Linked DNA regions of Homo sapiens: region 2 is linked to region 1. A link means that fine-mapping ties the variant in region 1 to the expression of a gene that starts in the linked region. Tissue or cell type: amygdala. Region 1 holds a variant in brackets; the other region holds the start of a gene. All regions are shown on one strand. Distances are between the middles of the regions.

Region 1 (5,552 bases):
TGTTATCATATGGAGGTACTATGATTAACTAATTGCTTATTGTTAGGGATTTAAAGTCTTTCTAAATATTTTTTATTTTAAATAATGATCAGTGTACAATGTCCTTTATACAGCCCTCATGATTGTCTTAGGAAATTGCTAGAAGCCAAATCTGTGTCAAAAGCTTTTCACACTTTTAAGGTTTTTGATACATATCATGAAACTCTGTTCTAGAATGCTTGTACAGAGTTTTATACTTCATCAGCAAAGTATGAGGATGCTCTTTCCCCTGCTTTTTCACCAGCAATAGATATTTTCATTTAAAGTAATATTTGCCGACTTTCTGGCTGAAATGTAAGATTTATTACAGTTTTAAACAACGATGTTGTCTCCAGGTGTTACTGGCCATTGGATTGCCTGCTGATATCCTTTGCCCAGTTTTCTAATGGGGTTTTAAAAAATTATTAGTGAGTTATAAGAGCTTTTTAAAATGTAACGTTAAGAAATTAACCTTTGTCTGTCACAAATGTTACTCATCTTTTCCCTTAGTTTATCGTTTCATTTTGCAATTATTCTTTTTAGGTAGTTAGCACGTCAGGAAAGGTAATCACGTAAGAGAGATGGTATTAGTGGTGTCAAGCTAATAGCTAAGATTTCTAAGGTTTGATTTCTATGTGGCTAAATAATTATTGTGTTGTTCTGTTCTCTGGTCACGAACAATGCTCCTGGACCCAATTACCTATTTTAAATGCAATTTTTTTGGCCATAAAGGTAGAGGGAGAAGGAGGTGGAGAGAGTGATACTGTTAGCGCAGTATGTTACAAATCTGTAATTATAATATGTGCATAAAACAGTTCAACATGTGGCCAGTAGATAATGTGTTTAAGAGCAACCTACTGTCTTCTATCAGATAAACAGCTTAAGAATGTCACTGATGATCTGACTGTTCAAAACTGTACCTGCTACTCCATCTTCCCGCACCTCACCATCCTCCATCAGATGAACAATGGGAAGTACTGCTGCACAGATGCATGCTGGGAACACTGCTTGTGGGGGCTGAGGCACATGGTGGTTCGGCGTGTGTTCAGTGGTATGTTCCTCATCTAAAATGGGAGACAAAATCAGGGTGCTTTTCTCAGTAACGTAATTCTTTGTTGCTACTGTTGTTTTGAGATAGGGTCTCACTCTGTCACCCAGGCTGGAGTACAGTGGCATGATCACTGCTCACTGCAGCCTCGACTTCTTGGGCTCAAGAGATCCTCCTGTCTCAGCCTCCAGAGTAGCTGGGACCACATAGGTGTGCCACCACATCTGACTAATTTTTTTATTTTTTGTAGGATGAGTCCTCACTGTGTTGCCCCAGTCGGTCTTGAACTACCGGGCTCAAGCAATCCTCCCACCTCCACCTCCCAAAGTGCTGAAATTACAGGCATAAGCCACTGCATCTGGCCTCAGTAATATAATTTTAATGCAACATTTCTCAGTTCAAGGCATACTTATTTAAAAGCATAATCCTAGCAATGAGAAAATGCCAACATCTTAAAAAAGATTACGTTACACAAAGTGCCTCTTCATTTTATAACAAATAAAAAAAACCAGCCCACTTTCCGAGTACTATTATTCTTGTTTGGTAGAGAAGCGAAGCACAGACATTCTGGGACAAGTGGATCGGTTCACAATATTAAATTAATGAAGATAAAATTCTAAGCGGAGACTAAGACATTTTTCATAGATGCAACTGGTTGTGTGCATGTGAGTGTGTGAGAGATAGTAAGCAGTAATATGGGGTAGAAGAAAACACACATGCATTTAGGATAAGAATGACATAGCCCACCCATATTAATGTTTTCATCCTCATTGATAAATACAATAACAAATTAAAAATAAATATAATTGCATATAGGAATAAAGGAAAAAGGTTAGATTTAGTAGGCAAGGAAGGTAGAAAAGGTATTTAACAGCTTATTAATATGAAAATATACATGTCACTTTTCTAAAGCACTAAAGAATTGTGAGTGTTTGATTCTCAGATTAAAACTTACATGACTATTTGGGATTTTAGAAGGCCTATGAAGGACTAGAGGGTTAAGAGACTTATACTGTCATTCTCAGTCTGGGCTTTGAGAGGTGAAGCCAGCTGATCTTCTGGGTTGGATGTGGACTTGGAGAACTTTTGTGTCTAGCTAAAGGATTGTAAATGCACCAATCAGGGCTCTGTGTCTAGCTAAAGGATTGTAAATGCACCAACCAGCACTCTGTAAAATCGCACCAGTCAGTGCTCTGTGTCTAGCTAAAGGATTGTAAACGCACCAATCAGCACTCTGTAAAATGGACCAATCAGCGCTCTGTAAAAGGGACCAATGGATGTGGGAGGGGCCAAATAAGGGAATAAAAGCTGGAATAAAATAAAATAAGGGAATAAAAGCTGGCCACCCAAGCCAGTAGCGGCAACCC[G/A]CTTGGGTCCCCTTCCACATTGCAGAAGCTTTGTTCTTTTGCTCTTCACAATAAATCTTGCTGCTGCTCACTCTTTGGGTCCGCATTACCTTTATGAGCTGTAACACTCACTGTGAAGGTCCGCGGCTTCATTCTTGAAGTCAGCGAGACCAAGAACCCGCTGGAAGGAATAAATTCTGGACACAGCTTCGTAGTAGATGCATGTGGAAATCTTTAAAAATGTATATATATATAGTGGACCAAGCACTTCTGCAACAGTGGAGTATAGATCCCTGAAATCTGTTCTTCCGTAAAAGCAATGAGAATACTGTGAAATACACTTTTTTCGGAGCTTTCAAAATTTACCAAAAGCTTGGAACTATTTGAGGAGCATGTATTAAAAAAACAACAAAAAAAAAAAGGAAAAAAGACCAGTGGTATTTCTGGCTTTTTAACTTGTCCTACTCACCTCCCTGTCTTCCTAGGTCCTTAGGAGCCTTGAAAATTGACAACCTTGCAACCATGGTAGCTGTTAAAACCAGCAGCCTAGCAGCCACTGGATGGGCAGAGCAGTTTTGGAGCCCCCTAAAAGCCTCAACACCAGAGAATTGTCACTACTTGACCTATCTAGAACCCCATGGAAAATCCCTGTTCACAAGGTTTGTCTTTATTTAGCTTGACTTAAAGCTTAGTGCAAACAGCTTTATCCCCAGGGCATTTTCCAAAAAAAAAAAAAAATCAGCAACAATTATTTAACATTGTAGCTGTCTGAGGTGCTCATATGAGTTGGGAGAAGCTGGAGGCTGACAAAAATCTTAAAAGGCAAATCTGGAGAATGAGATTTCTAGGGGGCTTGCAAATCACTGACATATTCCTGGTTATCTAGATGGCTGTACATATGTACAAGGTTGTGCACATGCCCAGGAAAGACCTGAGAAATTCGTCATCTCTCATGTTTGGCTAACCTTGAAGCTCTACACAAGCAGAAAGTACAAAAATGAAGGGCAGAGTTTTAAACTACTGGAACACTGAAGATGTGCCTCAACACACCCAAAGTGGTCCTCAGTAAAGGCTGGAAGACTTATTAGTTCAAGGCACTTAAGAAAATCTCTGTCTAATCATTACCTGACCACTAATGTAACTGAGCAGGGATTTCAGTGCTCACACTCAACAAAGGCTTATTATGGACTTTACAAATTAGTCAAGGAAAGTTACTAAACAAACAAATAGCAACACAATAATAAAAAATCCTGATGAGGAAAGGGGGACATTTGATTTGCAGAGTTTCCACATTATATAATTTAAATTGTCCATTTTTCAATAAAAACTTATGAGACATATAAGAAACCCGGAAAATATTGCCCATATACAGAAATAAAAGCAGTCAACATAAACTAACCCTGAGGAAGCTTAAATGTTGGACTTACTAGACAAAGATTTTGTCAGCTATTATAAATGTTTTATTTTAATATAATGTTATGTTATATAAAACATATTATCTTATAAAGTTATTATAAGATAAAGATATAAATAAAACTGTGTCTTTCACATGGCATATCTTATATTTTAAAACGGCAGGCACATATCTTACCTTATCCAAAACTGCAATAAATGTAAACTGACTAATCAAAAGGCAAAATTAGCAGAATGGATAAAAACAAACAAATATGAATCAACTGTTATGTTTAAGAGACGTAATTTAGTTTCAAGGACACAAATAAGATGAAAGAAAAGGATGAAAGAAGATATGCCATACAGATAGCAATAAAAAATGATGTGGAGTATCTATGTTAACATCAGACAAAGTATACTGTAAGTGAAAAATTTTTACCACAGGCAAAACAGAGCATGTTATAATGACAAAATAATCAATGAGAAAGACACAACAATTATACAAATATCTGCATATCAAGATTTCATGGTACTGAGAGAAGGATTGACATACAGATCAGTAGAACAGAACTGAAAAACCATAAATATACTACTACATTTATGTTCAATTGCTTTTTGACAAAGGTGCCAAGAAAATTCAATGGAGAAAATGGTCTTTTCTATGAATAGTGCTGGGACAACTAGTTATCTAAATGCAAAATTCTAACTCATAACATAACACATATTAACTCAAAGTTGATTACACACCTAAATATAAATGCTAAAACTCTTAGAAGAAAACATAGGAGTAAATCTTTGTGACCTTGGATTAGACAAATTGTGACCTTGGATTAGACAAATTGCGACCTTGGATTAGACAATTGTTTCTTAGATATGACACTAAAAGCACAAATGACAAAAGAAAAACACACACATTGGACCTAATTAAAATAAAAAATTTTGTGCCTCAAAGTTACCTTTAAGAAAATAAAAAAGACACTCGCTTCTCAGCCTTTTGGCTAAGATCAAGTGAAGAAAGTAAAAAGACAAACTACGAAATGGGAGAAAATATTTGCAAATCATATATCTGATAAGTGACTTATATCCAGAATGTATAAATAGTTCTTATAATTTAACAGTTAAAAGACAAATTGCCCAATTTAAAGTGGGCAAAAGATTTGAATGAATACTTTTACAAAGAAGATATACATATGGTCAATAAGCATATGAAAAGATGCTCCATACCATTTGTCATTAGGGAAGTGCAAATAAAAATCACATTGAGTTACCACTTTATACCCACAGGGATGAATAAAAACAAAAACAAAAACAAAAACAAAAACAAAAACTAGTGACACACACTGAAATCAGCTGAGGAGGTTTTAAAAACACTGATGAGTCCTACCCTCAGAGATTTTGATTTGGTCTTAGGAACTTTCTTTTTAAGCTTCCCAGTTGGTTGTAATGTACTGTAGCTAGGTGGAGAACTATTAACTGTCTAGAATGATGTATTCTGAACCCTCAGCAATATGATTACATGCAATGTAATTAAAATAGAGCCAACTTAAAAATAACAATTGCTGAGGTAAATCAACAATTTTTTTTTAAAGGATGCCATGCTAATTTTTTTTAGAATGTCAAGTCATGAGACAAGTTATTTAATGAAGACAATGTAATCAAGTGAGATCATGATATTAACTGGAAAGTGTTTCAAAACACATAAGTCAGGAGAAATAAAACGTATGCAAGAGGACACACCTTCAGCACTG
Region 2 (5,000 bases), 400 kb before region 1:
CCGTCTCTACTAAAAATACAAAAAATTAGCCAGGCATGGTGGTATGCACCTGTAATCCCAGCTACTCAGGAGGGAGAGGCAGGAGAATCGCTTAAACCTATGAGACGAAGGTTGCAGTGAGCTGAGATTTGCCTCTGTACTCCAGCCTGGGCAACAGAGCAAGACTCTCTCTCAGGAAAGAAAAAAAAAAATAGAGAATCCAGAAATAAATCCATGTATTTACAGCCTACTGATTTTTGACAAATGTGCCAAGAACATCCATTGGGGAAATGACAGTATCTTCAATTAATGGTGATGGGAAATTTGGATATCTACATGCAGAAGAATATAGGTATCTTCTATCTAAGCCCCTATCTTCACTACATCACATATTAATTCAAGGTACATTATAGACTTAAACACTTAAAACTATAAAACTACTAGAAGAAAACAGAGGGAAAACTCTTCAGTACATTGGTCCGGGCAAAGATCTTACACCTAAGACCTCAAAATCACAGGCAACAAAAACTAAAATAGACAAATGGTAGCATATTAAACCAAAAAGCTTCTGCATATCAAAAGAAACAACCAAGAGAGTGAAAAGACAACCTGTAAAATGGGAGAAAATATTTGTAAGCTATTCATCCAACAAGGCATTAATATCCAGAATATCAAGGAACTCAAACAATTCAACAACCAAAAAAAACCCCACAAATAATCATATTAAAAAGTGGGCAAAGGATATGAACAGATATTTCTGAAAGTAAGGCACACAAATGGCCATATACAAATGGTATATGAAAAAATACCCAACATCACTATGCATCAGAGAAATGCAAATGGAAACCACAATGAGATATCATCTTACTCCAGTTAGAATGGCTGTCATTAAAAAGATGAAAAATATCAGATTCTGGTGAGAATGCAGAGAAAAGGAAACTCTTAAACACTGTTGATGGGAAGGTAAATTAGTACAACCACTATGAAAAATAGTATGACGATTTCTTTAAAAACCAAAAAATAGAACTACCATACAATCCAGCAATCCTACTTCTGAGTATTTATCCAAAGGAAAAAGAAATCAGTACATGAATATGTGCACTTGCATGTTTATCTGAGCCCTTGTCACAATGGCAATAGGACAATAGCACTATCCAAACATCCATTTCTCTGTTGATAGACACTTAGGTAGAATCAATTCAGTAAACAATATAACCATGAGCACTGTCTCATGGAATTTATAGTCTAAGTGAGGACAATAATCAATAAATGATTCAATTATTATAAGCTATGAGTCCACCAAATGAAGTATTGCAATATGGGATGAGAGGAGTGGAACCTACTTTAGATAGGGTGATAAGTAAGACCCTTCTGAAGAGAGGACTTACTTCTAAGGTAAGACTTGAAAGGGAATAAAAACATTCATTCAAAGAAAGATTAGAAGAACAATTCAGGAAGAAAGAACAGCATATCATACTAAAGAATGAACTGAAGAAGGCCAGAATGTCTGTAGTCCAATATGTGAGGGGGAGAGTGGCAGGAGATGTTGCGGGAGCTCATCCATTTTTCATCAATATTCTAGGAAACATAAATCACTGGGAGAGGACACACTATGAAAATAACTCTACTCACACACCAGTCTGCTTTAGATAGGCCCTCTCCTTTACACCTAAATAAATATTTACAATTTGAGGGAAGAAATGGAATCAGCCTAAGCATAAGACATGAGGACTCAGAACTTGTTGGTTCCTCATCCTCCAAGCTCCAACCACAAGTTGTTTCTCCCTTTGCCAAGATATCTGGAATTTCCAGACTTGCAATATTAATGCACAGCCCTGTACATGGTCTTATATACCTATGATGACAGCCCAGTCATGAAGCTAGAGAAATGCAAAATAAGAAATTTTGCTAAAATTCTTTAGCAAAAGCTAAAGAATATGAAGACTAAATCTGAGGGAAACCCTAAGGTATATTGGATTTAACCATTATTGAAGACATAAAAAGGTTTAGTCAGAAAGTTTCTGGTGCTTCTCAAGGAATTAGTGACAGCTTTAGAGTGTGAAGACCACATTTCTTGAGTGTTCAGACTTAAAATTCTGTCTTTGTGTAAGACCTTTCAGACTCTGTTTGCTGAAGAAAGAGACTGAAATGTAAGACCTAGAAGTCATATTGTAACATTGCAGGCTAACCAGGTGTTGAGAGACCCCTTGCTATTTATTTAGCCATGTTGTAATGCCCTTTCCAATCCCAAATTCATTCTTGCTTCTAGAAGATTATTGAAGTGGGACTTGCGAGACATATAGTCTCTTTCAACAAACAGCAATATAATTCTTCCTTTACACATTCCAGGGAAGAAAAAAAAAATATCCTTTCCAGCTGGTACACAGGCTGTGATGCACTGGAACTACCTGAATCCTAACCGCCAAAAGGGCACCAGGGAGGATTTTAATATATGCAGTACGAGTGTGTCAAAAACAGCATCTTACGAGAGATTTAATCTGTTCATTTGAAAGAGTGCGGTACAAATGGTCCCGTGGGGCTCACCTCCAGGGCCGCCAACGATTTCACACTTGATGAGAATCAATATGTGTGCTTGGTCTTGACTACAAATATTTCATTAGAAGCTGAGAAAAGGGCCCCTGCTACCCCATTTTGCTTTCTTCCCGGCTTTACTGGTCCCAATTTCTTCCACGTCAGAAATGCCCATCACATTTCATATAAAAGAATGTATCCAGCAAATTAAAAAGCTAGAGACCTCAAGTTGAAATTAATACTTACAGGGTAACAGGTGTCTCACATTTTAAAAATCCTGGCACTGGTTTACAGCAGCATAAGAGTGCCCTTTGTGCTGTTTCCTCCTCTAGCAGAACTGCTCCAAACACAAGGACTGAGGCCGCCAGTCTCTCAAGAATGCCTAACGTGCCATAGGGTGGCCTCCTGGAGACATGAATACTCTCTTGGGCCCGAATTAGAAAACCTTGACCAGGACAAGTAGAAGCAAATGCACTGTCAGCCATGGGCTATTCTTATCCCTGCAGTTGTTGCCCATCTTCAAAATGGAGACAGCGAGACTCATGCTGTCTGAAGACCCTAAGACAGGCTTGACACAGGGTCCCTCTGTTTTTTTTATCCCACCCAATGTCATTCATTTTACTTTGGAAGGCAGTATTATTTCTTCTCCCTATCAAACTTTGTATTAAAGCATAACATACATTTGGAAAAATGCAGAAATCTTAAGTGTACAACTTGATGAATTATCACAAAGTGAACAAATTCATGTAACCACCAGCTCCTTCAACAAATTCATGTAAACACCAGCTCCTTCACTACCTGACCTTCCTCTCCACTACCCAACACTCCTCTCTACTACTATCCTGTCTTCGAATACCATCAGGTAGTTTCTCTTGGTCTTGAACTTTATATAAATGGAACCATAACACTGTGTGACACTGATCTATCTTATTACATGTACCTGTAGTTTGTTCATTCTTATTGCTGTGTAGTGTTCCATCACAAGGATATATGATATTCTATCCATTTTATTGCTAATGGGCATTTGGGTTGTTTCCAGTTTTGTGCAATTATGAATATCATTGCTAAAAATGTTTATGTACATTTTTTTTGAGACAGAGTCTTGCTCTTGTTGCCCAGGCTGGAGTGCAATGGTGTGATCTCAGCTCACTGTGACTTCTGCCTCCCGGGTTCAAGCAATTCTCCTGCCTCAGCCTCCCAAGTAGCTGGGATTATAGGTGCCCACCACCACACCTCGCTAAATTTTTGTATTTTTAATAGAGACAGGGTTTTGCCATGTTGGTCAGGCTGACCTCGAACTCCTGACCTCAGGTGATCCACCCACCTCAGCCTCCCAAAGTGCTGGGATTACAGGCGTGAGCCACCGTGCCCAACCTATGTACATCTTTATGCATATACATACACATTTGTGGGGGACACATGACTATGAGTGAAATTGTTGGCTTTTAAGATATGCACATGTTTAGTATTTATTCTTGGCCTTTTTGTCCTGGAGGGTGCTTTCCACTTAATTTCCCAGAAAAATATCAGCTGCCAAAATCTCTTTTGCCAGTTTGTTCTTGGAACTATGCTAAATATTGTAGGATGATGGTGAGTTAATGGGCAGTCATTGCCCTTGGACATTTATGCTCTCAATTCCTTCTCAGGAGGCAACCAAGAAGGATTTCTGATCAATAGTCTGACCATTCGGTTACTGTTTTCTTACTGCCACAGCCCCTTTTCTTGAGGTAGTCTCTGCATCGTGTGCCCTTTCTTGCCATGGTCTGGGATTTTCTGTCCCTTTCATACTCCCTCTCTCTTGCCAGAATCACATACTACAGCATCAGAATTACCCAGTGAAGCAATCTCTGAGCAATTTTAATCACTATAAATGTCCTTCCTTGAGAAATCCTACACCCCCACCTCCAGGGGAAGCAGCATGTTAACCATGTAAAGAATCACGCTGACTCAATTTCTACATGACTTACTATCTGCTTCATAAAACAAGATTCCGGAGCACTGGTTCCAGCTTGGCCCTGGATATATCATGACCTCTAACAAGGTAACTCTGAGAGCAAAAGAAGAAAAATACCAGTCTTCACTTACACAAGTATTGGATTTATTAACTGTTAAAGAAACAATACTAGTTAAAAACTTAGTGACGAAAGGAGTGTAAACATTTTAAAAAATCATCTTTATTATCCAGTCCCAGTCCTTTATCAAGTTTGCACTTAAACACCCATTTATTCTTAAAAGGAAACAGTTTACATTTTAAAATATTTTTGGAGTACCTCATAATCCCCAGTTAGAAAGTTATTTATTTTTAACCGAAAATTATTTCACTCATCCCTGTTAGTTTCATATAAAGAACAGCTGACGACTATTCTCTTAATAGCAACATTTTATTAATTAAAATTGCTTTTAAGCCACCTTTTTCTTCCTTCAACTAAGTACTGCCAAAGCCATTAACTTTTCAGAATGGGTTCTAATAGTCAATTTTGTTCATCCTC

The links. PIP is the estimated chance that this variant, and not a neighbour inherited with it, causes the effect.
Region 2: it holds the start of LANCL1-AS1, and the variant in region 1 is the best candidate, but not a certain one, in a credible set for the expression of LANCL1-AS1 in amygdala (GTEx, PIP 0.59).

What each region holds. Positions count from the first base shown.
Region 1 is chr2:209,922,373-209,927,924 of GRCh38, reverse strand. It overlaps UNC80 (unc-80 subunit of NALCN channel complex), which reads right to left. Exons shown (of 65, transcript NM_001371986.1): 35 at 5,542-5,552; 36 at 939-1,082. Among named protein-coding and RNA genes, the nearest start is that of RPE, 77 kb to the left of the region's middle. The variant G/A (reference allele first, on the strand shown) is at 2,434.
Region 2 is chr2:210,322,592-210,327,591 of GRCh38, reverse strand. LANCL1-AS1 (LANCL1 antisense RNA 1) reads right to left here and starts at 2,880. Exons shown (of 5, transcript NR_110606.1): 1 at 2,758-2,880.